Linked DNA regions of Homo sapiens: region 1 is linked to region 2. The links come from fine-mapping of genetic effects on gene expression. A gene starts in region 2. The other region holds a variant in brackets. All regions are shown on one strand. Distances are from middle to middle.

Region 1 (16,721 bases), 42 kb before region 2:
AACCTTTAAATCATCCTTCTCTCTGTATCCCACCCTCATTTCCCAACACTCTCCCTGACCACACAAACACATATTCAAATTCACATTTCATGGAACTGGGAAAAGGAAGCCAAACCTGACAAGATAAACCTCCACTGAGAAGCCAAGGTGGGTGGATCACCTGAGGTCAGGAGTTTGAAACCAGCCTGGCCAACATGGTGAAACCCCATCTCTACTAAAAGTACAAAAATTAGCCAGGTGTGGTGGTGGGTGCCTGTAATCCCAGCTACTCAGGAAGCTGAGGCAGGAGAATTGCTTGAACCGGGGAGGCAGAGTTTGCAGTGAGCTGAGATTGGGCCACTGCACTCCAGCCTGGGTGACAAGAGCAAGGCTCCGTCTCAAAAAAAAAAAAAAAAGATAAACCTCCAAATGTAACACTCAGCCTCCTTACATTTTTTGCCCTAAGCAAAAAGGAAAACAGTCTCACTTATTATATTATAAGAAAACTCCAGGGTAATAAATTATTCTGAATTCAAGCTCATTAATAAAAAGTCACTCATTTCAATTAAAATGAGAAGTAATCTCTTCTTCTTCTCCTTCTCCTCCTCATCCTCCTTCTTCTCACACCATCAAAAATAGACCAGAGAACTGATTTTCCACTCATTTCTTTGGTTAGCTGAGTAGCTGCGAGGCACCCAAGCTAGAGTTGAGGGCTGTGGGACCAGTTTCTTATCTCCTTCAACTCCTGAGGGAGTGAGGTGAACACGACCTGTGCATGCCTTGAGCTTCACTGGACAGGATACATTCCATCTTAGGTCATTCCTTAAAGGCTCACTGATCTTATAAAGTGCTGAGTCATCTTTCAGAGCTAGTTCAGGAAAAAATTTTCTTGACAATGAAAGATATTCACTATGAACACAAAGCAGGACAAAATGTAGCTTTTTTTTTCAAGGCATGTTTAAAGAAAGGGATAGATAGTAAGAAAGACTTCCTCAGACAGGCCTGAGATTTTTACAGTTCTCTAATCTTTGCACAACTTCAATGCAAAGGCGAGGGTTAGACAGCGATGCCATGATGCAACCACAAACACATCACGCCTGGACCCATGCCTACTGGGACTGCAGCCAGATTCAGGGGCCTGAACATTCAAAAAGCATTGGTCAGACGTATAGACAGTCTTCCCTTTACTTTAAGCAAATCGGTTCAGTAACATTCACATTTCTTCAATGTCTCTTATCAAATCTTTAGCATTCCAAATAGCTACTACTGACAATGCCCAGGAAAAAAATCCTTTTTCCTTCTGAAATCTGAGTAGCAAAATAAATGCTAAAGGAGATGGAAATATGTGTTTCTGAGTCGTGACATGTTGAGCAAGAATAAAATATGCAAGAATTAGAAAAGTTTCACTCAAGTCACAGACAAGAAAATGCAATGGTGAGATGAAATATGAAAAGACACTTATCCTCACTAGCAATAGGGAAAGCACAAATTAGAATCACAGAGATACTGTTTTTCATCTAAGATATTTGCAAAGAAGCCAAAATGGGATAAGAGCCTGTGTTGGCAAGATTGTGAAAAAATGGATCCTTTAACCACACATTGTTGGCTTTTGCACTGTGACACCTGATTGGGAGAGCCTTTGACACTGCCATCCCACTTTTGAGAATCAATCTTACAGAAAAAAAGGTGCAAACCTAAGGAGAGAGTATAAATCATTGTTGGTAGTGGTAGAAAACTACAAAAACCTAAACGTCCATCAGTAGGGCACCAGTATTCAAGTATAATATACCCACACTGTATACTATTTTTCAGTTATTAAAATTTGTGAAAATAAATATAATGCAAAAGTTGTTGCGACCCCCAAAGCACTTTAAGTCTTGAGAAAGATGTGACTGTGATCTGAGTCACATATGGTTATAATTTCTGTTTCTCAGATTATACATTAACTCACTTTCTTATTTTTCTCGTTCTCTACAATGGCTAGAGATAATTAAATGTCCAGGACAAAAATCTCCTGCCTTCTTAATGACCCTTGCTATAGATTGACTTCCTCTTTGGTACCTTGCTTTGCTAAGACCACATGACAGAAAACCCATGACTACTATGCCCTCTGTAATGAATGTTAAATGTAACTTTTCCAAAAAGAAACGCTGCCTATAAACCAATCAAATTGCTGTAACAATGTGCCAACCCTGTCTGAAAAATGAAATATGCTAAAAACTTCCCTGTCCCTGACTACATAAATGAAACCTTAATTTCCCTACTTTAGAACGCTGACTCCATTCCTTTGGAGTTGGCATGTTTGAGTTGGCCACCCTCACAATATGCACTTAAATAACCTCTCCTTAAATTGGATTCTGACCCTTATGACTACCTTAGGTTGACAAAATAATGAATTGGATTGACATGTATTGACTAGGAGGAATTTTCATTGTATATTGTTGAATGCAAAAATCAAGTTACTGCATCATATTTGCATCTGCACCATTTGGGGGAGGAATAAAACACCATTTTTATGTGAACATGAACATCCATGCATTTGTATGAGCATTGAGAAAGTTGAGAAAGGATATGTACCAAATTGTTAATGTTGGCTGCTGCAAAAGGGTGAGGTTGGACAGGGAGAAGATGATTCACTCTGTTTTATATTCCTCTGTATTACTTGACTGTTTACAATAAGCACGTATATAACTGTTAATTTTTTTAAAATTTGTATTTACTTGCTCTGCAGATAAATGACTACTGAGGGACATTTAAAAATTAGGACATGCTAAATTATTCAAAAAACCATGTATATCTTTTGTCTCTAGTTCCTGAAAACATTTCCAATATTTCAAATAGATTCTTTACAAAGAAAATACCTACGAAAATCTGTTTGTGGCTAGTGCAATTATAGACAATCTTGAACACATTTTTTTAACAACTGACTGAATCTAGAGCTATTTTTTTAAATAGATCAAACGATCTTAAGAATTCATTAATGCAATTCATGGCATGCTGAACATAAAAGCAGGAAGAGGCCTATGTTCTCTTTCAAAATCCTTCCCAGATGGCAAACAAAGCTCAAAAATGAAAGTCTGCAAATAAGATGACTGAAAGAGGGGTTTAATAATCAGTGGCTTTGAAAATGCATGTTCCCTTTTTAAAAGGTGGCTTTTCAGAAGTTTAGCACAGTAAAGCACCTGTGAAAGGTAGCAATGACCCTGTGTCCCTGCTTACCCAGTCTAGGCAATGAGGTGATGAGCCACTAAGGAGGCTTCCCCTAATGTAATGGAACAACATGGAAATACAATGAAAGTCAAGCTTTAACAGGTGCTCTATGGCTCCAAAGCATCTTTATGTATTTTCTGCATTTTTATGACCTAAGTAATTTTTAATTTTTCACTATCTTATTTCCTATAATTTGTGCTATAAGTGCTCAATTCTAGCACATTTAATTTGTATATTGCAGGCAAGCTAAACTTAATATCTCCTTTACTTTTATTTTGATTTTTTTTGAGATGGGGTTTTGCTTTTGTTGCCCAGGCTGGAGTGCAATGGTGCAATCTTGGCTCACTGCAACCTCCGCCTCCCAGGTTCAAGTGATTCTCCAGCCTCAGCCTCCCAAGTAGCTGGGATTACAGGCATGTAGCACCACGCCTGGCTAATTTTGTATTTTTAGTAGAGATGAGGTTTTACCATGTTGGTCAGGCTGGTCTTGAACTCCTGACCTCAGGTGATTCTGCCCGCCGCAGCCTCCCAAAGTGTTGGGATTACAGGCGTGAGCCACTGCGCCTGGCCTCTTTTACTTTCATTTGACTGAAAATAATTATCTCTGTACACAGAATTTAACATGTGACTTTTTCTTGATCCTACATGATATGCAAATATCAATAATTATTTAGTAAATCATACAAGTCTAGCAAAACATTTTTTATACTACATTACTGGTAAAAATTAAAATCAACAAAATCCAGCTTAGCTCCTTCAATCTATTGTCCAATAAACAAATCGAGTCATTAGAATTATTTAAGTCAAAACCACAAAAACCTTTTACTTTCTCTTGAGAATCAAGGAAGACTTTTCTCTCACAAGAATCAGATTTTGTTTCATAGCAAGGTTTAGATTTGATAGGCTTTTTGTCCTTTAAGTGCTGGTAGAGGTCAATAATGTTAATATGTTAACATGTTCTTATTCCTAAGGATGAAGGAAATCAGCTAAACTCATCTCATCTTGCTATGACCATTTCGCCGGATTTCTCAGCCTCAGCACTATGGAATTTCAGGTAGGGGAACTCATTGTTGTGATTGTAGGGAACTGTGTGTTCACTGCAGGATGCTCAGCAGTATATCTGGCCTCTGCCAACTAGATACGAGTAGTACTCATCCCGTAAGTTGTGGCAATCAGCACTGTCTCGAGACATTGCCCGTTTCCAAAATTGAGCCATTGACAACACATTGAGGAAGCTCTGCTCAACAGACACAGAGACAGCTGCATGCTCATAATTTTGGCTGACACTTGTGTTCACAATGTGTTAGGCACTGTGCCAAAGATTTTATGCACATTATTTTATACACATCCCTAATTTATAAAGAGGAAAATTGACGTTCATAGACAGAAAGTGGTTGAGCTGGGTTTCCCTGCTTTTTCTATACTCAGGTGACCAATAACTTCCATGTGTCCTTGGCATTCTCAGCTTTGGAAGCTGGTCATGTGTTTGTGGTCACGTGTTTGTAAATAGATCTCTCTTACCCCATGCATGCAAGTATGTATGCAGGGATAGAACTGGGTATAACTCTACCCAAATGAGTAAAGATGGACAATGAAGGAAAGGACTTTGAAATTCTCCCATCTCTAGTAAGTAGCTGAAAATCACTTATCACTATAGGTTTCCAACACTATACAAGATGCCTGTGAAGACAATAGACACAGAAGACTCAAATTGCCTGAAAGGGTTTAGAGCACTGTAAGAACCTCCCAGTATCTGATGGCCTCTTGGGTTGTTCCTGCTGTAATCAGGAAACTAACTCCAGACCTCTGTCCCTGAAGGTAGACAGAGCTTCGGCTCCTTCTCTCAGAGGGCAAAGCAGAGTTCAAGATCACACTCAGATCAGCCAGAGTGCCCTGGTCTTGGCTTGAAGCCCAGGGTATAATCCTAGTTCCTGGTAGGGCTTTGACTGTGTTGACCTTCCCAGATCTTGGCTGCTTCTTATTTAACTGGAGCCAAGGACTCACTCAGAAGTTCCAGGGCTAACCGATCCCTTGGCCTGCCTCACACTGACCTTGAGCTGCAGCATTTACCCAGCCTTTCCTGAGTGAACTCCAGCAGTGAGCTGCTATTAATCACACCCTGTTGTAACATCCCCTGCCTCCCTCTTCCATTTCCTTTTCTCTGGAGACACTAGCGCCTGTGCTGTTTCAGGTAATGGACACCCAGATGCCTCTTTTAGACTCTGAAAATTGGATGGGGCAACCCCTCACCTCTGACGCTTAGTGGGCTGTTATTTTATAAATAACATGTTTGTATAACTGATTAGTACTTTATATTATATTCCACCTTGGGTGAAAAATAGACTTTGCTTAAAAAAAAATCCTTCTGACTGTTCTTCCTCTTAGAGTTCTAAACTCTGCACTTTTCAAAAGAGTCTGTTCTTTTGGGCCTAGCAAGCAGAAAGAGGAGAGTGTCTCTTGATCTGGGGGCAAACATTTCCCTAAAATTCTCCTGGTAGAAAAAGAACTCAAAATAGAAGTGAAAATGAGTTGCCGAAAAATAAGAAAAGTTATATTTCTTGCCCTTCTGAGTTTGTGAACTCACTGGATACCTGCTTGATATTGAACTAGATATGTGGTGGATATGTGCAGATTAGAACTATTAAATTAGATTATAGAGAGAACAGACCTACCAAGATGAAAACGTAAAATCATTCAAGGGATTGGAAGGTCAACATGATAACACATAAAACAGATTTTCATCTGGAAAAGGGACATCTCTAGAGACTGTTCATACAAGGAGGCTTATTCAAAGAGAAAGGACAGCCAGCTCTTTTCTCAGCAAGCAAGAAGGCTGGGCTAAAATTTCAGCAAGCATGATTATGAGTCTGTTTTAGGGGATACTTTCAGGTTATAAATTAAATGTAGCTCTCCGTGGTATAGAAAAGCTTGGGAAAAATCTTTTCTGACAACCCCAGTGGGAGATTCAGGACATGATTATTCTGATGAAAGGCACAGATCCGGCCAGATGTCTCTGAGTAGTTTTTCTTTTATTTTCTTTTTCTTCCTGCCTAATGATCTAGGAATATGACTACACTTTTGATACTATGGGAGAGGAATTCCAATGCTGGATCTGCAACTAATTGGCTCTGAGCAAGATTCTTATTCACGCTCACCTCCATACCTCATGTATAAATAAGGGTGACAGCATGTCATACTTATAAGTCCGTAGACACCATGGTGATGAGTGAGGTGGAGAGTCTAAGAATAGTCTGATATCAAATACAGGGATGTGAGGAAAAAAGAAAGTTCTATTTTCAAGGAAATTTGCTACACAGTTTGAACAGAATCTGATAAACACCAAAGTATATATTACAGATAAAATAAGCATTTCTTTGCAAGTTATTAAATGTCATGTGCTTTATATAAGCTAACAGAAAACATAATTCAATAACTTTTTAATGTAGTCCATGTCTTAAAAATAATTTGGCGATCATTGGTCTTGCGTTGAGACAGGAGCCACGACAATAATTATTTAGACTTTTTTGCATTTGCAGGGCACATGCCAAAAGTTGTTTATACATTACAACTATAGTTAAGCTTTTACATTAATGAAGCAGTAATTAAAACTTTGGAACTGCCCCAGGTGTTTCTGTGGCTAATGTAAGCTCATGCTTGATCTTATTTTCTCTCTGTGGCAGTCACAAGGCTTAAGGATATGGGATGAGAGTTTAAAAGAAAATATAAACAATTTTAAAAACAGCTACAACTTTGGAAGCTACAGAAAGCTTATCTTTCCTTGTTTTCCTGAGTCTTTGATGATTAATACATTTAGAGCCAAATTTAAGGGCATCACTCAAGTCCTACTGAATTAGAATCTTTGAGGTTAACCTTGCACATCTGTGTTTTGTTAATCCCCACTGGTGACACTGATGGGCAGCCAATGTCAAAACCCACTGATTTTAAATAATATAGTATGATGTAAGGGGCATTACTGTGAGCTCAGCACTATTCTAGGTCCTGGAGATACAATGATTATCAGAGCAGACAGGGCCTCTGCTCTCCTGAAGCTTAAGAGATGCATATGATGAGCAAGTGGGCAACAACTGGCCTGGCTGTGATAGCGCGAACAGGGCACTGTGATGGAGTGACTGGAGACAGGCTTTGTCACCATGCAAAACCAACAATGGTCTGAGAAGTTGCAGAAAGCCTCTCTAAGATGGGTCAGTGCACTTGGCCTTAAGAAGGAGTTGCTATGTGACATTCCAGAATAAAAGAGATTTCCAGGGAGAGGTAACAGCTAGGTCAGATGCCCTAAGGGTAAAACCTGCTTGGTACCTCAAAGGATCAAAAAGATGCCTGTTGACTGGACCAAGACAACAATGCAATTTGTTCAGTATCATCAGAGAATTTCACGTAAGTGCCTTTTCCATAGATCTAAAATTTACTTAATCTTATACCACTCAAAAATTTACTCATTTTATATAAAACCTTTCTCTCATGGATGGGTGACACAAAATGCAGAAGACATGCTTCTTACTCTCAAAGGACTTAGCGGTCCACAATGTACCCAGTGTGAAAATAAATATGATTTAAAACCTGTTGGAACCCTGAAGACACTTTAAGCCTTGAGAGAGATGTGATTGTGATCTGAGCCACACAGGGTTGTGACTTCTGTTTCTCAGATTATAGAACAACTTGTTTCTTATTGTTCTTGTTCTGTACAGTGACTAGAGAGACTCAAACAACAACAGGGACAAAAACCTGCTGCCATCTTAATGACCCTTGTTACAGATTAACTTCCCCTTTCTTGTCCTGCTTTGCTTAGGCCAGTTGACAGAAAACCCATAACCACTATACCCTCTGTAACAAATGTTATATGTATCCTTCCCAAAAAGAAACACAGCCTATACAACCAATCAAATTGCTGCAATTGTGTGCCAACTTTGTCAGAAAAATGTTGTAATCCTGCTAAAAACTCCCTGGTCTCTGACTATATATAAATGAAACTTTAACTTCCCTACTTCAGAACACTGACTCCATTCCTTTGGAGCTGGTGTTTATAGGTGGGCTATCCTCAAACTTTGCCCTTGAATAAACTCTCTCTAAGTCAGATTCTGACCCTTTTGATTATTTTAGGTTGACACCAACTAACTATAAATAAGAAAAGAAAACATTAAATGCTTTAACCAAGGTTTAAACTACGTGCTATTAACACAAATAAGGAATATTTAATTCCAATAGCTGACACCAAAGATCTTCATAGAGGTAATATTGTCTGAGTTTGGTCTTACAAAGTAGGAAGATTTCATTCTCGTTTCGGCAGCACATATATTAAAATAAGATTTAGACAGAGGTAGAGAGGGCATCTTATATGGAAGATCATTGGCAAAGTATCAGGTACATTGAAAGAACCAAGAGCTGCTTGATTGCCTGGGGTCAGGGTTCCAGGGGAACCTAAGGATAGTATGAAATACGCCAAAAAGGACATTTGGTCCAGATCATAGAGGACGTTGAATTCCATGGTAAGGAGTCTGGAAGCAGTAGAGAAGCACAGATTTTTGAGCAGAAGAATGATGGGATAAGAGATGTGTTTAAGGAAGAAAACACTACTTTCTTGGTGCTGCGATGTATTTCATGAATGACCTGAGGGGTTGTTGAGTTATAAACGGCCTTAACCTTTAAACAGAAAGCTCAGTAATGCTGAGACTGTAGAGTTAATGGTGAGTTAATGGTTCTTCTGGATCTTAGCCTGCTGTCAGCTGGCATTTCTAATTTATTGCAAACTAGACGCTTCCAAAGGAAATGGAAAAAGTCACACCTAAAACTAATCCTATAATTAAGTAAAACAAAAACAAAAACTCAAAATCCACAAGTAGTTCCAGTCCACTACTATTAGAAACTAAAAAGCATGGGGCCTTGTCCTTTTATCAGCCTTTTGTTTTTTTAGAAAAAAAAAAAAAAAAAAAACTATTCAGAAGACTTTTCCACAAAATTCTCTATTTATCTGAATCATTATGATTGAAGAGACTTGATCTATAAATTGAACCATCAGTGTTAGCCTCAAGAAAAGCAAAAACCCACTGGGTTGTGAGCTCCTTGAAGCCCCGGGCCAGGGCTTCATGACCACCAAAGCCCCAGCTCACTCTGCAAGGCTCCTAGCAGTTGCTCAGTGAAAACCAGTTGCATAATGAATGTATAACAGCTTGCACTCTTACCAACACTGATGCTGGAATTGGGAGAGGAGGACATATATACACACATGAATTAATATATTTGTTTTTCATATATTTTTAAAATATATGCATATATTTTTCATCTGTATGTGTGTTGCATAGGTATCTTTTCATGTATATATTTTCATATTTGTAACAGGCATATGTTTTCCATATATATGGCTATTTTCTGCCCTTCCTCAGCACCCACAGCAGTGTGGTGGCCTGTGAAGTTCTGCCATCACAGAGAGAGCACCAAAGGCAATAATTCACAGAAAAGCTGCTTGGGACTTTTGCAACCATTCTTGAGTCTACTGGTTCTCAGCTATTTTCCCATCCCAATACTCCTGAAGGCTATGGCACACCCATGAGGAACAGTGACTCAGTGTGACAGCAACGGACACACCTCACCCCACCCTACCCAGAAAGCATATCAGAAGAGGGAGAAGGAAAGGATGAGGGAAAGGAAAGGAGAACATAAACATAAGCAGTTTGAACAAAAAAGCCCCGAAGTCCTTCTGCTATACCCCACCAGGGACAGGTCTTAGCCACAGCCTCCATCCCCCCAACTTGAAAATCAAGTATCATTTAAGTGGTTGGCTTTCAGAGTTAGAGGGGCCTGAATCTAGTCCTAGCAACACAATTATCAGCAGAGTGATCCCAGTCATCACAGTTAGCTTCTCTATGCTTCACTTTCCTCATCTGCAAAAGAAAGATAATAGTAACTATCTCAAATAGCTACTTGGAGGATTAAATGAGACTAAATTGTATAAGCTGTTGGGCACAATGCTTAACACATAAGGATAATAAATAGATGTTAGCAATGATTATTATCAACAACCAGCCCTTATAATTAAATGTTTGCCATGGAGGACATGGATGCTAATCAAAGCTTCCAAGAAATCAGGTGGGACATTTGTGATAGATCCAGCTGTCACTGGGCTTTATCAACAAGGTATATGTGCAAGTCAGGTGCAGATGTGAGA[C/G]AGGTGAGTCCATATGGGTCCATCTGGGTGCAGACTCAGGCCCGCCACCAAAGCCGACCGTATGCAGCAAAGTGCTTGGTTGGTATTTGGAACCACGACTAATGTTCCCTTTTCTTTCTTGGTTCTTATTAATTCAGAAAAGCGGGCTCAGCCCTAGTTGGAAAGTCAACAAAGGGAACAAAAAACTGATGCTGGTTTTCTTAGGAATGAAGATGGGGCTCTCTGTTAAGGTGCTACTTCCTGCCTCAGGACTTGCGGGCAGATAAAATCAAGGGCTCTCTGGCAACAGCACAACCCCTGGTGGCCAGATGATGTCACTGCAGGTTTTTCTCCATTAAAAGAACATAGTATGAATGAGTCACATCACAGCTGCAACTCTGTTTCTCCTCCCCTGCATAGACTATGCTCTAAGCTACCAGCAAGTACATTCGGGGATCCTGCTGAGGCAACACCAGATAAAAAAAAAAAAAAGATTTTTTTTGTTGTTGTTCTCAAAATTCTGATTGCTGCAGATTGAACCCAAAGAACTTTATTCTGCTCAGGTCAGCCGGGTTCTGAAACTCTTGGCATTAAAAGCAGAGTGGGTGACAATCATAAACCTACAGTTAAATGTCTAGTGTCCTGAGTGCCAGGCTCATCAGGAAAACAAAAATTTCCACTTGTAGTCAAAGCCAACCTCAGCCCCTCCCACTATTCTCCTACAACAAAGGCCCTAAGGGAACAGTGAGGAAAGAACGTGGCTTTCTTCCCCCCTGGCATGCTACAGAAGCTATCGTGAAAGCTGGTGACTATTTAGTAGATATGTCAGGGTCCTTCATTCATAATTTTGTTCAAATCTTTTGATTCTACTTAGATTCTGCTTTAGAATAGCAAAGTCCATATGCTATTACACAGTATGAATACTGGCTCTTTTTCATTTCTTCTTGAACTTACCTTGTTAAAAAATAATAATAGCTTGTAATGACAAGGTATGTCAGTGCCCAATGAACAGAAGGGAGGGGGAGAAAAAACAGAGGTATCTGAAGGCCACTGAGGATAGGGAGACATTCCACAGTTGTTCACTTCTTCCTTCACTCCCAGCTCTCTCTCTCCTCAGATGATAGGGAGGTAAACATGCTTAGAGTTCATTTGGTCTTACACTCAGAATGTCTGCACCCTGTTTCTCTATTTTGATGAACTATATGCCAGGATAGCCAGCCAAGTAGAAAACACTGCCGTTCTTGCACATCTACAATGCTGCACAAGTAACATTTCACAATGGGTAGGTTCCTCTGCACTGTTTCAGTTAGAAGAAAGAACACAATTCACCCAATTTTAAACACATCATTATCCCTTCACCATTTCCTTTCAAAATCAAAGAAAAGGAATTAAGTCCATATTTTGATGGGAGCTGGAAAAAAACGTTTGGACTCTCCCTTCTTCATTTAGAAAAGGAAAAGCTGCCCCCTTTCACAGAAACACATCAAGCAAGTGGACAATGAGCGACATACAGGTGCAAATGCCAAAGGACAATTTGTTCTTCTGCAAAATCATTCAGCAGGAAATTGGGCTAAGAGTATTACTGAGAATAAAGAAAGCGTGGCTGGAACAAAATAAACAACAACGCAACTCCACAGCAAGAAAAGAAAACCCAAGATCAGCAAGGAATGATTCCATGTAAGAGAGAAATGTTAACTGTAGTTGTGAGGACAAGTGAATTTAAAATCATATTAAGATTCCACATAATGTTACACGATATACAAATCACTATAGTTAATATGTAGAGTCAAGACAACAAGAGTAGATGGTGCCATTGTTACCTTGATGTAGCAACAGAGAATGATATATTCAGTACAACATACTCTAAAGCAGGGGTCCCCAACCCCTGGGCTACATACAGGCGGTTAGGAACAAGGCCGCACAGCAGGAGGTGAGTGGCAGGCAAGCCAGCAAGGCTTCATCTGTATTTACAGTGGCTCCCCATTGCTTGCATTACAGCCTGAGCTCTGCCACCTGTGGGATCAGTGGCAGCATTTGATTCTCAAAGGAGTGCGAACCCTATTGTAAACTGCACATTGAGGGATCTAGGTTGTTCACTCCCTATGAAAATCTAATGCCTGATGGTGTCACTGTCTTCCATCACCCTCAGATGAGACCATCTAGATGCAGAAAAACAAGCTCAGGACTCCCACTGACTACATTAGGGTAAGTGGCATAATTATTTCATTATATATTACAATATAATAATAATAGAAATAAAGTGCTCAGTAAATGTAATGTTTTTGAGTCATCCCAAAACCATCCCCCAACCTTCGTCTGTGGAAAAACTGTCTTCCAGGAAACCAGTCCCTGGTACCCAAAAGGTTAGGGACTGCTGCTGTAAAGCGTGCTGGGACAGTCTTCATGGCTCTGAGTCTCATGGGTTCCCGTTATCAGTTTGGTTGTTGCAGTGACTCCCACAAGCTACCAACTTCAGTACTGTTTTCAGAAAAAAATGACCTAGAACCTAACAGAAAATGGACCACCAGGGACAACGGTCGGCTTCATTTGGGTCTGGTCACAAAATTGGGGTCATATTTTGACAGTCCTACAAACTAAGAATTCCTGCCATTCACAAAGTCACAGCTGGTAGAAATTCTTCAAATTATGATCAATATAGTTCACAGAAACTATTTCCAGTGGCACTTTTAGTTACTTTGAAGTTGTCTTCAGCCATAGAAAGACATGGCAAATGTCTTAGAAGCAGATAGCTATATCTATACTTCCTTCTGTCCTAACCACCACCGACACCCCAATGTTGGTAGAGAATTCTAGTAAAGAAAGGAAAGTGGAAAGGTGAGTTTTAGGGTTACCTATAATTTGACTTTCTGTGTCTCAAAGTACCCTTTTTTGTTATGTGTTTTGTCAAACCTAAGTTATTATTGCTATTGCTTTTACTTTATATTCTTCTCTGTGTAGTGCATACTAAACAAACCTTAAAACACAAGTGGCTCAATTTACTTCAAATATTCATGTAAAATAAAATCGAGTTCCTTCAGTATCAGATTTGGAACTACTTCAGAGTGAAAAGGAAATAACAATGAGAATAGTGAAAGGAGGCTCATGGAAAAGTACCAAGCAGAGAGAGGTTGCCAACCTTTCCCCATGTGATGAACTCTCTTTTGACAACACCCACACAATCAAAGGCATCAATGTTAATCATTCAGAAAAATAAGTTAGGTTAAAAAAATTAAGTAAATGACAGGATAGAAAAGCCTTTGTTTTCCTAGTGAATATCTAAAAATGTGTCTTATACACATCTTAAATTAGGTATATTGTAAAAGAGGCCACAGGCAGAGTCCAGTTTCCACTGGCTTTTTGAAATTCTTTGCTCCCAAATCCAGTTAGATATAACACACATCATTTTACTTTGTAGTCAAAGTATGAGCCAGATTTTCAAACACTTCCACTTTAAATGCCTGTACATAAGTCACCTCTGTTCTTATGACCCACACAAATCCTGTATTTAGAATAGTGTACAACTGATCTCTACTGATTATGAAGAATTAAGTAGTCAATATGCCCAACTGGGGTTATTATTATAAAAGAATATACTTAAGTGTTGCTTAGTTTCATATGGAAATTCTTTTTCCAACTTTAGCTTATTCTTTTAAAGCCTAAATGGGAGAGGAATCCAAGAAAGCTTAGGGCAGAGTTGAAATCAACTGAGATGCCTTCTATTTATACCAAGATGACCAGTCTTCTCATGACAGTCCCAACTGTAGGAGAAAAATCGTTAGCTAAGGCATCTACCACAGCAGTTAAAATTTATTTGCCTCTAGCTTAAGCTAATTCTCTAAAAGTATTGCAAGGCTTTGGCCCAAGGTAAACTTAAAACTACCTTAAGGAACCTGCTGTCAGAAGGTCTTTCACATAAGCTGACCTTATTGGCATATGTGAAATAAAGTAAAACATGCCTAGGTCTGTATTTGACCTCACTGAGCAACTGTCTCTCCAGTCCAGTGAAAATCTTCTGACCATGGAATGCCATGCATGCCACTTTGATAGGAGTCCTTTGATGCAGTATGTTTTCAAACTGCAGGTCACTACCCCATTTAGTGGGTTACTAAGCCAACTCAGTGTGCTGTGATCAGTATTTTTTAAATGAGATAAAATAAAGTAGACTAGAAGAGAGTAGGAATTGTTTGGAATGCATATAATAAGAACAAGTAACATTTCATAAAATTTTGTTCATTATTTTATATGCACACACACACAGGCATGCACACACCAACACAACTCAATGTGATATAAAATGTATTTGTTACCCTGTGTCAGTTTTTGAGAAGTCTGAAAACCACTTCTAAGAAGGATATTTAATTTTATTGTTTCACATTGTATCTAAATGTTCACATACTACCAATCTATTCCCTCTTTTCAAGAAGGTAAGGGTAGGAGTAAACAGGATGGGTGCACCCACTTTTAGCTACACTAAGAACACAGCTGTGGGAGGAAGAATCAGCTCTTACTAGGTGAAGAAGACAGATCCACTGAAGGATAAAAATGTGCCTTTCCACTTGGATAACAAGCTGATGACGTGGATATCTTAACAGAGGAGAGAAGCACTGTAAAGTTTCCATTTGAGTCACTGGTTTTTTCCAAATATGGTAACTGGTTCCAAAACCTAAGAAGCTGAAGGCTTTGGCGGAATGTACTAATTAATATATGCTTGGCTAACTATGGGATACTCCCATTCAATAGGTGATGCCATAAAACCAGGACCTCTTCTCAATAGAAACGTCTAAAACAAGATCTCTATTAATTATTCTTAAATGTAAATGCTCTCCCACTCTCCACCATACCCCAGCTAATGCTGTGTTCCTCGACATCATTAAAAAAAAAAAAATCTCAGTTTAGTTTCCCAGTGTTTGAGAGGGTAGTTTAACTAATATCTTCTCTTTAAGGGGGGATTACAAATAAAAGTGCATCTGACACTTTCTGGATTTAAAATAAAACAAGATTTCATTTATTCTTTGGCAATGTGTGTGTGTATGTGTGTACATACACATTTACAACATAATTATACATACACACTACAGTATATATAATTATACATACACATACCAGAGTCTTTGCCACTGTTTGACAAAAATGATTTCATATTCTATAAACTCCTCTCCATCTTGTTAATCTTCACCATTCATACTAAATGTATGTGCCAAATGTTGGAGTTAAAATTCATTCTTTTAAAAGACTGCTGAATATTTCATGGTAAGCAAATACCGCATGTATTCAAACATTGCTCTTTTGATGGATATTTATTTTATTTTATTTTTTTCTGAAGAGAGGGTCTGCCTACCCTACTATAACCAGTGCTGCAATGCATAATTTTTGTACACGTATCATTACTTAAGCTAATTTTAGTTCCAGGAGAAGAATTTAAATTTTATTAGCTGTTGCCTGATTATTTTCCAAAAAGAGTGTAGTAATTCACATTTCTACCAGCAAGACATGAAACTACTCTTTCTCTATCCTTGTCAGCAATTGGAATTATCATACTTTTAATATTTTGCCTGTCCAAGGGATATAGCATAATGCCATATTGTTACTTAAATCTGCATTTCCTTATATAGTTAAGACTTTTCATACACGGCTGGCCAGTTATTTTTGCTCTCTGTAAATTACTCATTCAAATTATCTGCCTATTTTTCTATTGCTCTATCAAATTATTAGATTTTTTTCATATTGTATTGATATTAATCTATTAACTGGTATATGCAATGCAATCCTTTCTCCCACCTATTGTTTGTCTATTAAATTTGATGATATATTTTTTCTTGCAAATATTTAACATTTTCATAAAGGATAAAATGCCTATTTTTTTCTTTTGTACCTTTGCATTTCCAATCCCTTGGCTGAAACAGTCACCCCAATTACTACGTTGTACTTGATCATCTCATTTTTCTGTGAATATTTACATTGTGTTATAGTTTTTGGTTAAGATTTTAATCTATATAAAATTAACTTTATAAGGCATACAATAAAAGTCACATTTTGACTTTTCTGTGGCTGAGGTCCCAGTTTTCTGCCCCTAACTATGTGGTGTCACATAGTGCTTAGCTATGGTGTCAACGTCACACCGTTTTGATAAAGATGGCTTTATGGTACATATTAACAGCACATAAGGCAATTTCTTCCGCTTATAGTTATCATAACACTTTGTCATGTGTCACAGTTTATTCTTCAATAGATGCTCTAAGAGCACAATCTAATTTCAAAATATCTTTGTTGGGACTTTAACTGAAATTACACTAAATATAATATTAATTCATCTATTCAAGTTTTAAATTTTCCCTAGCTCAATTTTGGTAGTTTATATTTTGCTATACTGGGT
Region 2 (16,721 bases):
GTCAGCTAGGACTTTTATAGCTAGAGAGGAGGAGTCGATGCTTGGCTTCAAAACTTCAAAGTACAGGCTGACTCTCTTGTTAGGGGCTAATGTAGCTGGTGACTTTAAGTTACATGCTCACTTACTATTCAAAAAGTTCTAAGGCCCTTATGAATTATTCTAACTGTAACCAGATGCAGTGGCTCATGACTGTAATCCCAACACTTTGTGAGGCCAAGGCAGGAGGATTGCTTGAGCCCAGGAGTTCAAGGTGTCAGTGAGCTATGATGATCCCACTGTACTTCAGCCTAGGCAACCGAGCAAGACCTTTCATCTATGAAAATGCAAATACAAATAAATAAATAATTATTCTAAATCTATAGATTTAGAAAATGTGCTCTATAAATAGAATAACAAAGCCTGGGTAACTGTTTACAATATGGTTTCTTGAATATTTTAAGTCCACTATTAAGAACTACTGCTCAGAAAAAAAATATTTCTTTCTGAATATTACTTCTGGTTGATAACACACCTGTATTAGTCCATTCTTATGCTGCTAATAAAGACATACCCGAGACTAGGAAATTTGTAAAGAAAAAGAGGTTTAATGGACTCACAGTTCCGCATGGCTGGGGAGGCCTCACAATCATGATGGAAGGCACATCTCACATGGTGGCAGGCAAGAGGACATACTCAGGGGAACTCCCCTTTATAAAACCATCATGTCTCGTGAGACTTGCTATCATGAGAACAGCATGGGAAAGACCGGCACCTATGATTCAATTACCTCCCAATGGCTCCCTCCCATGACATGTGGGAATTATGGGAGCTACAATTCAAGATGAGATTTGGGTGGGGACACAGCCAAACAATATCATACGTGGTCACCCAAGAGTTCTGATGGAGATGTACAAAGAGATTAACATTGCTCACACGTCTACTAACACAACATCCACTCTTCAGCTTGTGGATCAGGGAGTAATTTTGACTTTCAAGTCGTATTATTTAAGAAATACATCTCATAAGAAAACAGCTGCCATAGATAGTGATTTTTTTGTTGGAACTAGGCAAAATAAATTGAAAACATTCTGGAAAGGATTCACCATTCTAGATGTCATTAAGAACATTCGTAATTCATGGGAGGTGGTCAAAATATCAACATTAACAGGAGTTTGGAAGATGTGGACTCCAACCCTCCTGAATGAGTTTGAGGTGTCCAAGATGTCAGTGGAGGAAATGAAGTGCAGATGTGGTAGAAACAGCAAAAGAAGCAGAAGTGGAGCCTGAAGATGTAACTAAATTTATGACATTTTAATCTCATGCTAAAACTTGAATGAATGAGGTGTTGCTTCTTATGGATGAGCAAAGAGTGGTTTCTTGAGATGGAATCTACTCCCAGTGAAGATGTTCACAGCACTGTGTAAATGACAACAAAGGATTTAGAATTATATAAATTTAGTCGATAAAGCAGTGGCAGGGCTTGAGAGGATTGATTCCAATATTGAAAGAAGTTCTATCGCAGACAAAATGCTACCAAACAGCATTACAGGCTATATATAAATCTTCTTGAAAGGAATAGTCAATCTATGTGACAAACTTCCTCGTTGTCTTACTTTAATAAATTGCCACAGCCACCTCAGCCTTCGGCAACCACCATTCGGATCAGTCAGCAGCCATCGACATCCAGGCAAGACCCTCCACCAGTAAAACACTTACCACTCAGTGAAGGCACAAATGATCGTTAGCAATTTTTAGCAAAAAGTATCTTTTACATAAAGGTATGTACCTTTTCTTAGATAGCATGCTATTGCACATTTAACAAACTACAGTATAGTATAAACATAACTTTTATATGCACTAGAAAACCAAAAAACGTGTGTGACTCGCTGTATTCCAATATTCACTTCTTTGGGGTGATCTGGAACTGAACCCACACTATCTCCAAGGTATGCCTGTATAAGAGACTGGACCTGCTGCTGTTTGACAGAAGGAAGAATGGTTCTTTTATCATTTTATAACAAAATGCCATACTTCCTTTATAAAGTAAGAATTTATCTTCCATGCAATATCAATAAAAGTAATGTGATTATATTCATTTTTCTAGAGCTTCATCCCTTGCTTCCTTTTCTCTTCTTATCCTCATTTATTTTCTTTCATCTATTTTTAATTTACATTATCTTGTTGCATTTCAAGTATCCATATAAACTGCCTTATGTACTTCCTGAAACAAGATAAAATTATATAAATGTTCTGTGAGCAAAGTATAATGTAAGGTATAAAGTATAATGTAAAGTATAATGTATAATGTAGAATGTATACTTATAATGTAAGTATAAAGTATAATGTAAAGTATAATGACATTTTCATTTAAAGGACTTTGCAAACAGTAGGGTTAATCTGATATTTATTGCTTTATTTCATTCATGGACATCTGAGACTCTTCTTGAGTGGATATAAAAAATAGTTATTATAGTAAACTGAATGATGGCCCCTAAATATATCCTAATTCCTGGAACCTGGAAATGTTACCTTTTGCAGGTGTGATTAAGTTAAAGGTCTTGAGAGAGAGAGAGATTATCCTGGATTATCTAGGTAGGTGCTAAATGAAATCACAAGTGTCCTTATAAGAGAGAGGCAGAGGGAGGTTTGATGCGAACAGAACAGAAAGCAGCATAACCACGGAGACAGAGAGATTGGAGTGATGCAGCCCAAGAATGTCGGCAGCCACCAGGAACTGAAAGAGGGAAAGACGATTTCTTTCTTAGAGCCTCCAGAGGAAGGACAGCGCTGCCGACACCTTGATTTCAGCCTAGTGATAGTGCCTTTGGAATTCTAACCGCCAAACAATGAGACAGCACATGTTAATTGTTTTAGGCCACGAAGTTTGTGGTAATTTTTACAGTGGCCTTGAGAAACTAACATAGTTATTAATTTGAATATATGCAAATGTTAAAAGGAGACAGTTTTCCTTGTAACATTAAAGACGTTGGGAAAGGTGAAAACAACAAAGTTATTTCCATTTAGAATAATAAAATATTGAAGGGTAGTTTAAAAGGATCAGGAAGTTTTTATTTTAAAGGACTACTGTATGTTTCGGGAAAATGCTACATTTCCAACCCAATTCCCTCTCTAACATATCAGTTGTCTTAAAGCAAAATTATCTGGTACCAGAGGAAAGCAAATAGGAATGCCATTCTCCTGTGGACATCTCTCTCCACGTTGTTCTCCAGCCCTCCTCAGTGAACAGCTCCACCCATAATCCCACTTCCTGTTTAGTGTCCTACCACCTCCCCTGAGAGTCCTCTTGTTTTGCTGGAAGTAATCTATTATTTTACAAAGTCAAAGAACATATTTGCATAATTTCACTTATGGGAAAGTTTCTAGTGCAGTAAGTTGCTGCACTTACTGAGCTATATGGGCGAATCATGTCCATAACACCTTGGTGTCTTCCTGGACAATATGAGGTACAACTCATCAGCAACTGCCTGCTTAATCTCACTTATCTTTACCTGTCTCTAGATTAGCAGGCAGAAAGACAAGCCATCTCCACTCTAGGTAATTCTAAAATAAACTGTGCTGAAGGTGGAAACTTACACTTTAAAAATCACAGAACTGTCTTATCTAGAATCTAAGAGGCAAATCATTCATTTAGCCAGAAAAAATGTGCAAGTGGAAAAAAGATTTCCCTTTAATATATGCTATAAACAGTTTGTGAGAAGTTTTTTCTTAAATAACTCAATATCTCTGCTTTATAAATAACAAAAAGTCTGAAAATGAAAATCTTAAAATGCTAGGCAAATAAAGATTTAAGAGGTAATTATCCTCCATTTGATTGTACAAGTAGGAAGCTGGTCATCCTTGACACTGCCCTCCTTCACATTCAATCCAATTTTGACTTTTCTTAAGTTTTTTTGTTGTTATTCTCTTTTTGTTTATCTGTTTTTGAGACAGAGTCTTGCCCTCTCGCCCAAGCTGGGGTGCAGTGATGTAATCACAGCTCACGGCTGCCTCCACCTGCTGGGCTCAGGTGATCCTCCCACCTCAACCTCCCAAATAGCTGGGATACAGGCACGCACCACCACACCCAGCTAATTTTTGTATTTTTTGTGGAGACAGCGTTTCACCATGTTGCCCAGGCTGATCTCAAACTCCTGGGCTCAAAAAATCTGTCTCCTCCAGCCTCCCAAAGTGCTGGAATTACAGGTGTGGCTGGCCTTTTTTGTATCTCTCTCTTTTTTTTTTTTTTTTTGAGACAAGGTCTCACTCTTGTCCAGACTAGAGTGCAATGCTGGGATTTTGGCTCACTGTAGCCACAAACTTCTGACCTCAAGCAATCCTCCCACTCCAGCCTTCCAAGTAGCTAGGCCTACAGGCACATGCCACCACACTCAGCTAATTCTGTTTATTTTTTGTAGAGATGAGGTCTCTCTATGTTGTCCAGGCTGGTCTCGAACTCCTGGGCTCTAAGTGATCCTCCTACCTTGGCCTCCCGAAGTGCTGGGATTACAAGTGTAAGCCACTGCACCTGGCCTCTTAAGTATTTATTAAATCTGTTCACTTTTCTCATATCCATTTGCCTTTTTACTAGTCCTCTTTACACCTAAAGTTTCCATCCAGTCATGAGGGGAAAGGAAGAGCACCACAGGACAGCTGGAGATTCAGGTGGGGACTGAAGTTTTACCTTTCCTCCAAAAGTCATAGGCTTTGAGTGAGAATGGGTCCCTCACAGCATCCACTTTGCTACTTTTTACCTATCTGGCTGTAAACAAGGAACTTATTAAAAAGTCATGGCAAAAATTGCAATTACTTTTGCACCAACCTAATACCTTCCATGCTTGTTTCCTCTCTGTAGAATGGGAATGAGAATATGAACTACCTCATGGGACTGCTGCGCACAGGAAATGAGTCCATCAATACATGCAAAGCACGAAGAACAGAGACAGGGACACAATAAACAATCTGCTCTTCTGATTATTGCATACTAGGGTTATAGTTTTTCAGGCTCTCGCTGCACTATGAGGCCCTTTCTTAGCATCAGCATGGCAGTGATTTTACATGTTATTTTTCAAATAGCTATCAAATTAATATTTGTCTCTTCCTCTACTGTAAATTTTATGAAGCAGATACCAAGTCTGTCTTTGCTCTTCTTAGCACAGTGCTTGGCAAAGGAAAGCACTGAAATATTTGTTAAGTAAATCTTGGAAGTAAAGCAAAGCAATAAAGCAAACCAGTGACACCAGTGGTTACCAGTCTGTAGTTTCGGATGTCTTCAGAAGTTGTATGAATGTTTCCTATCTGCTATAGTTCTTCTCCATCCTCACTAATATAAGCTTTCAAATATACCCATGTTCAGGTTCCAAAGATTCCAGTTTGACTGGGATGGGGTTGGCCAAGGCCAGTAATGAAGACTCTCTAAATAATTCTAATATGCAAGTCAGGTTGGAAAGCTCCGGTGCTGCTCCCACCAGCTTCAGTTCTGGCGTGAAGGCCTCCAACCTGACCTCTGCTTTTGAATTTGACCAACTGCCCTCACCCTTGGTTGAATTATCATTTCCTATCTACATAATAGAGGAAAAAATATGGGAAGCGGCAGCTTTACGGGCAGGACTTAGGAGGATGGAACAAACGAGTAAGGTTCGTGCTGTTCAGACAATTGTAATCCTGGCAGCAAACCTGTTGGGCGACTCCAGGCCCACGCAATCGCCAACCCACTCTCATTCAGGGCGTTCTGCCCCTAGAGGGCGAGCGCATCAGGTCATGAACCTTTTTTTTTTTCTTTTTAATGAGATTTTATCTATACTAAGAGCCAACACAGAGTTTCCTACTGTGTAAAAGAATGGTGGCTTTGATTGCCTTAAAGGCTGAACTCCGCAAGCCATCCCTTCTGGGCGTTGCTCCCCAAGGTAGATCACTGAGTCCGTTTCCTTCCCACTTGTCTCTCGCTCCACATCCGCCCACCTCTGCCCCTTTCCACGGTCCGTTTACCCCCATTCTTGAACGATTCCATCGGAATTCCCCAACCCTGTTCCAAGTGTGACCCCAAGATATGAGGCCGCCCTTCCTGAAGCCACCGCAGGCTCCTCCAGCAGGCAGCCCCGGGAGCAGGGAGCTGGGCGGCCGGGGGCCCCGCGCGCCACGGGAGGCAGAGGTCGCTCCCCGATCGCGGAAACCGGGACTCACGTGTGGATCTGCTGGAGGTCAGGGGGCCGGTAACGTTCACCTGGCCTCGGAAGGCGGGTCCCCGAGCGGGAAGCGTCTCGCGCAGCCGGGCTGCGGAGCCACCCCCTCGGCGGGCGATCCTCTCACTCCCTAACTTGGGAGCCACAAGCCGCGAGTCCACGGCGCTGGGCGAAAAGAGTCACATTCCCTCCCCACTCCCTCAAGGGAAAGGGAGCGAAACACGCTTTCCGGACCCGGCACAACAGGTCCTTCGGGCAGCCGCGAGGTTGGGAAGGCCAGGGGCGACTGGCTGCGGAAGAGGGTAGAGCATTCCACGGGCGCATTTCCTGAGGAGGGGCCTCTCCACTTACGGATCCCCTGTCACTTTATTGATCCCCAGACCCACAGCAAATCCTGAGTTTGGGCAGCAGGCATTATACCAAAGGCGCGGGTGGGAGTGGAGTTCTGGATGTGCAACACGGCACCAATCTGTTCTGTCCGAGAGCGAAGTTAGGTGGTGCAGGAAAAGAGCCTTTATGCGCGCCCCAGGACCTGACTCTCGGGGCGATCGGCGACCACTCACCTTGTGCCTGCGCCTCCATGGTGGCTGACTTCGAGCTGAGGGCGGCGGGGACACCCTGGTGCTTCCCAGAGCAGATGGCAGCTGCGCCCAGGCTCAGAACGCAGCTGGCCCCGCCGCTCGCTCCCACTCCTGGCACGCGTGTCGCGAGCGCTGCGCGGAGGGGGTTGGGGACGCAGGCAGCCGCCACTAGCCGCTTCTGGTTACCTCCGCCCCTTCCAGTCCACCTGGCCCAAACCAAGCTGGAACAAGCTCGCCGCTGGGCGCCACCTGCCGGCGCTCTGTACAGCCGGCGGAAGGCACCCACTCCCGGCGCTATAAGGGCATAACGCAGAGATATTGCAGGTTAGGTTCCAGACCCCCGCAATAAAGCGAGTATTGCAACAAAACGAGTCACACGAATTTTTCAGTTTCCTAATGCATATAAAAGTTACGTTTGCACTATGCTGTAGTCTGTTAAGTATGCAATAGCACGATGTCTAGAAAGAGCAATGTACCTACCTTAACTTAAAAAGATATTTTATTTCTAAAAAATGCTAAAGATCATCTTCACCTAATGGGAATCTTTTTGGTGGTGGAAGGCATTGCTTGGATGTTGATGGCTGCTGATTGATCCTGGTAGTGATTGCTGAAGGCTGCAATAGCTGTGTCAATTTCTTAAAATGGGACAACAATGAAGTTTGCTGCATCAATTGACTCTTCCTTTTATGAAAGATTTTTCTGTAGCATGCAATGCTGGTTGATAGCATTTTATCTACATTATAACTTTTTTCAAAATTGGAGTCAATCATCTCAAACCCTGCCATTGCTTTATCAACTAAGTTTATATAATTATAAATCTTTTGCTGTCATTTCAACAATGCTGTGAACAACTTCACCAGGAGTAGATTCCATTTCAAGTAACCATTTTCTTTGCTTGTCCATAAGAAGCAACTCCTCAACCATTCAAGTCTTATGAGATTGAGCAATTTACTCACATATTCAGGCTCCACTTCTAATTCTAGTTCTCTTGCTATTTCTACCATATCTGCAGTTACTTCCTGCTTTGAAGTCCTGAACTCCCAAAGTCATTCAGGAGGGTTGGAATCAACTTTTTCCAAACTCCTGTTAATGTTGACGTTTTGACTTCCTCCCACGAATTATAAATGTTCTTAATGGCATCTAGAATGGTGAATCTTTTCCAGAAGGTTTTCAATTTACTTTGCCCACATCCAACAGAAGAATCACTATTAATGGCAGCTATCTATTTATTTCTTAAATAATAAGGCTTGAAAGTCAAAATTACTCCTTTATCCATGGGCTACAAGATGAATGTTGTTTTGCCAGGCATGAAAACAACATTAATCTCTTCGTACATCTCCATCAACTGTTGAGTGACAAAGTATATTATTAACCAATATTAAGCAATAATATTTAGAAAGAAACATTTTTTGAGCAGTAAGTCTTAATAGTGGGCTTAAAAATATTCAATAAACCATGCTGTAAACAGATGTACTGTCATTCAAGTTTTGTTGTTCCATTTATAGAGCACAGGTGGAATATATTTAGCATAATTCTTAAGGGCTTTAAAATTTTCAGAATGGTAAATGAGCTTTGGCTTCAATGTAAAGTCACCAGCTACTTTTGCCCCTAACAAGAGAGTCAGTTTGTCCTTTGAAGCTTTGAAACCAGGTATTGACTTCTTTGTAGCTGTAAAAGTCCTTGGTAGCATCTTCTTCCAATATAAGGCTGTTTCATCCGTATTGAAAATGTGTTGTTTCGTGTAGCTACCTTCATCAATGATCTTAGCCAGATCTTCTGGAGAACTTGCTGCAGCTTTGACATCAGCCCTTGCTGCTTCACCTTACATTCATGTTATGGAGATGACTTCTTTCCTTAAGCCTCATGAGCCAGTCTCTGCTAGCTTCCAACTTTTCTTCTACAGATTCCTCACCTCTCTCAGGCTTTATAGAATTGAAGAGAGTGAGGGCTTTGCCCTGGATTAGGCTGTGGTTAAGAGAATGTTGTGACTGCTTTGATCGGGTTTGATCCAGACCACTCAAACTTTCCCCATATCAGCAAGAAAACTGTTTCACTTCCTTATCGTTTGTGTATTCACTGGAGTAGCACTTCTACTCTCCTTCAAGAAGTTTTCTTTTGCATTCACAGCTTGAATAACTCGTACAAGAGACCTAGCTTTTGGCCTATCTCAGCTTTCAACATGCCTTCCTCACTAAATTTAATCATGTCTAGCTTTCGATTTAAGGTGAGAGACATGTGACTCTTCCTTTCATGTGAATATTTGGAGGCGATTGTAGGGTTATTAATGAGCGTAACTACAATATTGTTGTGTCTCAGAGAATGGAGAGGCCTAAGAAGAGGGAGAGAGATGGGGAAATGGCTGGCTGGTGGAGCAGTCAGAACACACACAAGATTTATTGATTCAATTCACTGTCTTATATGGGCATGGATCAGGGTTCCCCAAAATAATTACAATGGTAACATCAAAGATCACTCATCCCAGATCACCATAACAGATATAATATAATGAAAAAGCTTGAAATATTGTGAGAATTACCAAAATGTGACACAGAGACATCAAGTGAGCACATGGCATTGGAAAAATGGCACCAATAGATTTGCTCAACATGGGGATGCCACAAACCTCCAATTTGTTAAAAACGCGATAGCTCACTCCTGTAATCCCAGCACTTTGAGAGGCCAAGGTGGGCGGATCACGAGGTCAGGAGATCAAGACTTTCCTGACTAACATGCTGAAACCCCATCTTTACTAAAAATACAAAAAATTGGCCAGGCGTGGTGGCACGCGCCTGCAGTCCCAGCTACTCGGGAGGCTGAGGCAGGAGAATCGCTTGAACCTGGGAGGCAGAGGTTGCAGTGAGCCGAGATTAGCCTGGGCAACAGAGCAAGACTCCATCAAAAAAAAAAAAATGCAGTGTCTGTGAAGCACAGTTAAGAGAAGCGCAATAAGACGGGTTGTGCCTGTAAAGGTCTGATACTATGCCCTGGACAGAGGAAGAGAACATGGTTTTACAATACTGAGCCATCACTCTTAGTGGAGATACGAAGGTAGGTTTCCACAAGCCGTGGTTCTAACATTTTTGTCAACTGATCAATACACAATTTTGTTTCTTTATATATTTTAGTTTAAAGACACCTTATTTCATGTATATCATGTATATTGTTGTTTCATTAACATTGAGCTAACAGCCAACAGCACTAAAACTCATACCAGAATCAAGTTTATTAAGCTTATTTAACATATATATTTTCTCTCTAAGGCACATCACAACCTTCTTGCACCTAGGAACACTAGACAGTACTTCAATGCTATCCTGGGGGGCCCAGAAAAATCACCAAAAAAAAAAGGTTTGTTTATAGACTGGAGAGATGAAACAAGAAGGCAGAGCTGCCTTGCTTTTCCTCAGCAGGAAACTTGAATCTTCTGGGGTCTCTATCCATGAGTCCCTGTAGGTTGTACTTGCAGGTTGATGAGACAGTCATGTTTTCAGACAGGACTAGAAATTCACAGCCCTGTTCCAAGGCTTTCCTGGTAATGAGATTAGAAAGCATGACAAGGAGTAAGAAATATCAGCTCCCATCTCTACTCCTCTGGCTTTGGATGTTACAGATCTCCCCTTTTTCTCAACATCTACACGATCTTCATCTGTAAAATACAATGTGGTACTTATTTACATTTGGTCTTGAATAGTTTGCCACTTGGGTTTTTGTTTCCTCTTCCTTTCTTAAAATAGATGGTAAAGTCTGTCAGGTTTGAGTGTGGATATTATGTTAAACCTCCCATAATTCCTGACAAAAAGTCTTATAAAAATTTCATAGCTCAAAAAGATTTATTGAATAAACAATTAACTAACCAGTAGGTTATATTTTATCCATGCCCAAGTTTGCACAGTATAGACTAATAAACATAAATGGAGTCTTACATTTTTTTCTTGAAAGAAGGAATACTACTCATGGTTTCCTGGCACATGTACGAGCACCTCAGTGTGGTTTTTGTTATGTTGAAGATCTCACTGATTTGTAATCATTGCCATTAAAATTACTATGTAGAACACTAAGCATAAGGCTTTTAAATGACTTTTGGTAATAGTGACCAGGGATGCATGAAGTGAAGAATCAGTGATTAAATCACTTTTAAAGTCTATTCCGTTGTTCTGGTCTTCTATACCCTGGAAATTAAACACCAGGTTAGGGTTGACTCCCTGCTGCTAAAACGAGCTAAAAATAGTTAATGACTTCCCAGCTTGAGTCATCTAACCTTCATCTACACTCTGACTCATTTTTCTGATTTATAACATTTTAAGTTGCTACCCTTTTAATTTTTCAATCATTATTTATAATAATAAAATATTGGTATTCATTCCAAAATAGTTATTGAACATCTATATGCCAGGGACTGTGCTAGATGCTAAGGGTATGGGTTAAGGACATGCTCCTTCCTTACCAGGGAGTTCATGATCTGGTGAGAAGGAGGGATAAACAGGTTTTTTATAAAGCAGCGCCTCGTGGTAAGCGCTGTGCATAAAGGGTAAGCCCAGTGCGTCTGTGAGCACTGAGGGAAGCCTCCTAACTCAGGCTGGTGAGAAGTACAGAAATGTTTCTTTCAAAATGCTTGCCTCAGCTGTGTCTTAAGAGTAAAGGAATTAGTCAGGCAAGTTTGTGTTATCCCCCTAATAATGGTTTAGCCAAAGAAGACTATTATTGAAGTTAACATATTATAAAAATGAAGATTTTTCTATTTTGTCTTTTCTTTGTCTTTTCCTTGTCATTTAAGATGGTGAACTTTCTTAACTTCTTTAAAGCTTATTAAAACAGCCACCTTCACCCTCTCCTTTGTCTCTATGGCCACTCCAGATGCAAAACGCTGTGCAAGTGTTTGATTGAATCAATGAAATTCTGTTTAAAAATACCTTACTTAATGTATTTTGTTGCTTTAACATTAACATTGGTGTTGACATTAACATTAACATGAGACAGTCATGTTTTCAGACAAGACTAGAAACTCACAGTCCTGTCCCAAGGCTTGCCTGGTCATGCGATTAGAAAGCATGACAAGGAGTAAGAAATATCAACTCAGGTCTCTACCGATAGCACTATAACTCATATAAGAACGAAGTTTGTTTAGAAAGTTGATCATTCTATAGGGGTGAAATGCAGTAGAAATCTCAACTGTCCAAAGGAAATGTGTATTCAACAGTTTTTACTTACACCAGTTCCCGGTCACTTGTAATGTATGGGTCTGAAGGCATCGTGGGAGGTGGACAGGGCACAGAAATGAGAGGAAGGAGTAGAAAGGACAGGTGAAGTGTGCTGCTCTGGCCTATGAACTTTACAAATACATTGAAAGAGAACATGAGCTTTGGGGCTCCATTAGATTCCCACTCTGAAAACTACCAGCTGTATCACCTAAAGGAATTGTCTCAGTCTCTCTGTGCCTGGCTTTCTGCATTTGTGTCACGATGCTATATGAGGTATTAATGGGCATGTTCTTTCCCTCCTATCCCACTGGGCACCTGTGCTTTTAAAGCAGTGGTTCCCAGTCATCTTCTACATCAGCACCACATGAGTGGCTTTTAAACATTTCTGATACCTGGGTTCTACCCCACAAGTATTCTGATTTGTCTTTTTAAATCTCTCTCGGTGATACTGATGTGCTTCCAAGATTGACAATGACCATTTCAGAAACTGTCCACAACAAAGATGAAAGGTTCTATAGTCTCAGCTTTTAAATTAAAACGTTGTCACCCAAGTAAACAGAAAATAATGAAAAAGAAATATGAGCAGGCAGCACAAGAATTTTTACCCCTAATTCCAGGGGAGTTGGAGAGGAAAAAAACATTGGGGAGGGCAGAGAAGTATGAAAGATTTAGACATGGCTCTGTCTACAGATTTCACCCTTCTTCTCCTTACTCCCATGAGAGCAAAGAGAACCTGGCCTCGACAATTGCATTGAGAACTCTGATGGCCAGATAGTTTTGAGAAACCTTAGGGATAGAACAAGTGCTCTTTGTCACTTTGAATTTTTCACCCTCTCAAGTGGTGTAGGAAGCCAGAGAGGAGTTTCCTTGAAGCCCCAGGTAGGGGGTGGAAGTTAGTGAGGAGAGAGAACTAGCTAGTAAGCCAATATCCCCAGGAGGCTGGAGAAAGGCAGCTTCCATTTCCTGAAGCCACATGAAGAAAAGGGTGCAACAGAATCTTTCATGAGGGTAGGAGGGGCTGCACAAAGGGAGAGGCATTCAGAACTCAGCCTAGCTGGAGGACTTACTGACCTCACCCCACATCATACTACTAAGCTGGGCAAAAGGAATGAGGAGAGATAGTTTGATTGCTCAGAAAGGGGACCAGCACCACCTTTTTTCCACCTCTACCAACTTCCCAGTTCTCAGGAAACATGGAAATTGGAGTCTACCCACCAGAGAGTTGGCTTTGGAGGAGGCCAGGGGAGATTAGTTGGCTGAATACTAGCTAGGACCACTGAAGCCGAAAGCTAGAGGTGAAGTGGACATCAGAGAGGTGCAGCACAAGGCCTGGCTAGGTTCCACCAGGGCCTGCAGGAGCTGCTGGTGAGTGAACACACTGTCAACCTCATCCATCTGGATATGGGGTCATTTGGGTTTTCTTTTCCCCTTCCTCTCAATTCCCATCCCACACACTTAGTCAAGAGGAGCTGGTTCCCAGAAGTGACAGGGTCCATAGACACCCAAAAACTAACTTTTGCATCATAACCTTCCAACACACACACACACACACACACACACACACACACACACACACACATGTTCCAAGCAGTGCTGAGAGAAGAAAGGAAAAGAGATTGTTGAGGCTCAGAACACTATACACCAAAGTATGGCACATTGGCATGCCAAATACTAGGTCCCTTTCCTTCACTTCAAAGCATTCAAATACATTCCTCTAACCTTGCCCCACCTTTCTGTGTAGGAGCTGGCCATAAATTATTTGGCCTACCTTGACTGATAGTAGGTCACAAGACCCTCATTCTAGAGTGGTTCTGCCCCACACCCTGGAGGGAGGAGCACCACACCAAGAGGCCAAGAAGCATCCAACAGCCAAGCCTTGCTTGGTGTGTTAGGATGTTCTTGCATTGCTTTAAATACTTGGGACTGGGTAGTTTATTTTAAAAAGAAGTTTAATTGACTCTCAGTCCTGCAGACTGTACAGGAAGCATGTCTTCAGCATCTGCTTGGCTTCCGAGGAGGTCACAGGGAGCTTTTACTCACAGTAGAAGGTGAAGCAGGAGTCGGCATATCACATGGCAAGAGAGGGGCAAGAGAGAGAGAGTAGGAGGTGCCCCACACTTTTAAATGACCAAATCTTCCGCGAACTCACTTATCAGAAAGGGGATGGTGCTAATCCATTCATGAGGGAGCCGCTTCCGTGAGCCAAGGACCTCGCATTGCACCCTACCTCCAACACTGGGTATTACATTTCAACATGAGGTTTGGTGGGAACACAGATCCAAACCGTATCACTGGGTTTCCCCTCTCAACCTATGACCATTAGATCATACCCCTTCTGTTCAATCACATTTCCTCATGGCTGTCCATTCTTCACTGAACATAAAATTAAGCATAAAAATAGAGTTTTCTTAGGTCTTTAGGTCTTCATTTATGAAGACTCCCCGTCACATAAAGCTTTGATTAAATAAGTTGCTTTTGGTTAAATAAATGTGCTTTTCTCCTGTTAATCTGTCTTTGTCGGTTTTTATTTCAGACCGAGCCAGGAGCCCTAGGAGGTTTGAGGAAACTTTTCCTTCCCTATAAGATTTACTTTGCACTTTGGGAGGCCGAGGTGGGTGGATCTCCTGAGGTCAGGAGTTCGAGACCAGCCTGACCAGCATGGCAAAACCCCGTCTCTACTACAAATACAAAAATTAGCCGGGCATGTGGTGGGCACCTGTAATCCCAACTACTTGGGAAGCTAAGGCAGGAGAATTGCTTGAACCTGGGAGGCAGAGGTTGCAGTGAGCTGAGATTGTGCCATTGCACTCCACCCTTGGTGACAGAGCAAGACTCTACCTCAAAAAAAATAAAAGATTTACTTTGACATTGAGAAGACTAAATCATATAGATCATATACCAATATGAGACTGTTCTAATTACTAAAAACTAACAAAAATTAATAAATCTTGACCAGATGCCTGAAAGAGAGCCCCTATTCAGCCAGTTGAAAGAACAATTATTTCATAAAGTACAAACATTTCATGTTTATCCCTCAAAAAGTTGTAGCTTCCCAACAAATTGAATGCATTACATGAAATGCTTTACACAAAGCTTAATGAATAAATTTTGTCTTTTCTACATTCCACTAAAGTTTCTAGACATATTCACTGGATCTGTAAATAATGCATGGATATTCAGAGAACTTGGAGGATAAAGGTGCTTATTTTCATTACAAAAGGACATATTATTTAGTTGTATCCTGAGGTTCCCATATACTAAAGCTTATTCCTTTACCCTTGAAAACTTTTTGAGAAATATATAATTGCTTTTACTAACAATCTCTAAAATGCATTTAAAATTTATTAGATCTCTGAGATTTTAATGCAGGGTTTCTCAACATTGGCACTATCGACATTTTTGCTGGATAATTCTTTGTTGTGCTATATGATGTTTAGGAACATCACTGGCCTCTACCCACTAGAGGTAGAGAGTAGTAGCCCCATGGTCATGATGATCAAAAGTCTCCCTACATTGCCACATGTCTCCTGGAGGGCAAAATCACTCTCAGGTGAGAAACACAGCAGTACCTTTTTCTTGACAACTCAGAATCATTACAAGTAAAAGTTATTACCCTGTACAATATGGGGATCCCTACACTGAAGGAATGCCTTCTGAGCCTAGGCAGGGGTGGAGATTTTTGTCCGTCATTTCCACAAACAGCCACTCTTGGAGTTTTCCTGTTTCCCTCTGTTGTTGTTAGTCATTGTTCACCTGCTTCCTTAACACATCCTTAACATCCTTAACAGATGCCACCATAGGAAGGGAAAGGAGTGATACCTTTCCTCACCCATCATAAGGGTCAGGCTAAAACTCCTACAACAAAAGATAGGTTAGCAAGTGTGTTAGTGAGTTCTCAGAGGGATAGAACTAATTTTATATATATATATATATATATATATATATATATATATATATATATATAGAGTTTATTAAGTATTAACTCACACGATCTCCCACAATAGGCCATCTGCAAGCTGAGGAGCAAGGAGAGTCAGTCCGAGCCCCAAAACTGAAGAACTTGGAATCTGATGTTCAAGCGCAGGAAGCGCTGGGAGGCTAGGCCAGTCTAGTGTTTTCGTGTTTTTCACTGCTTTATATTCCAGCTGTGCTGGCAGCTGATTAGATGGTGCGCACCAAGAATAAGGGTGAGCCTGCCTTTCCCAGCCCACTGACTCAAATATTAATCTCCTTTGGCAACACCCTCACAGACACACCCAGGATCAATACTTGGCATCCTTCAACCCAGTCCAGTTGACACTCAGTATTAACCATCACAACAATTCAAACCATAACAAATTTATGTAATCAAAGATTTGGGTTACATGGGAGCCTTCAGAAATGAAGACCCTAGAATCCAGGGGAAACTGTTTTTAGGCTTAAGTTCAATGAAGAATGGACAGCTGTGAGGAAATGTAATTGGATAAAAGGGTATAAGTTATTGGTAACAGACTGATGGGGGAAATCCAGCAAGGCCTGGCTCTTTGAATTCTTCTAGGCTTCTCTGTATGACATTCCTTCTTTCCAGGTGGTAGGCAGGATCCCTCTGGAAACAGAGGGAGAAGAAAGAAGGGAGACTTTTGGGGATTTTAAGATTTGCTTTCTGGGACAGGGATTCTAGAATCTATGACCTACATTGGGGAAAAAAAATTTTAGTTTCTTTGACTCTCTTTGGGGAAAACAAAAGGGCAGGAAGCAGGAGAGCAGAAGAAGATCAAAGAAAACTTACTTCTGAGGCCTTCCAA

The links. PIP is the estimated chance that this variant, and not a neighbour inherited with it, causes the effect.
Region 1: its variant is fine-mapped to the expression of TPD52L1 in skeletal muscle (GTEx, PIP 0.96).

Annotation. Positions count from the first base shown.
Region 1 is chr6:125,186,441-125,203,161 of GRCh38, reverse strand. The region is part of intron 1 of TPD52L1 (TPD52 like 1); the gene reads right to left. LOC100126584 (a long non-coding RNA gene) reads left to right here and starts at 5,345. Exons shown (of 4, transcript NR_149043.1): 1 at 5,345-5,380; 2 at 12,498-12,553. The variant C/G (reference allele first, on the strand shown) is at 10,370.
Region 2 is chr6:125,143,971-125,160,691 of GRCh38, reverse strand. TPD52L1 (TPD52 like 1) reads right to left here and starts at 6,919. Exons shown (of 7, transcript NM_003287.4): 1 at 6,722-6,919. The coding sequence starts at 6,740. RefSeq lists an enhancer at 5,536-6,123.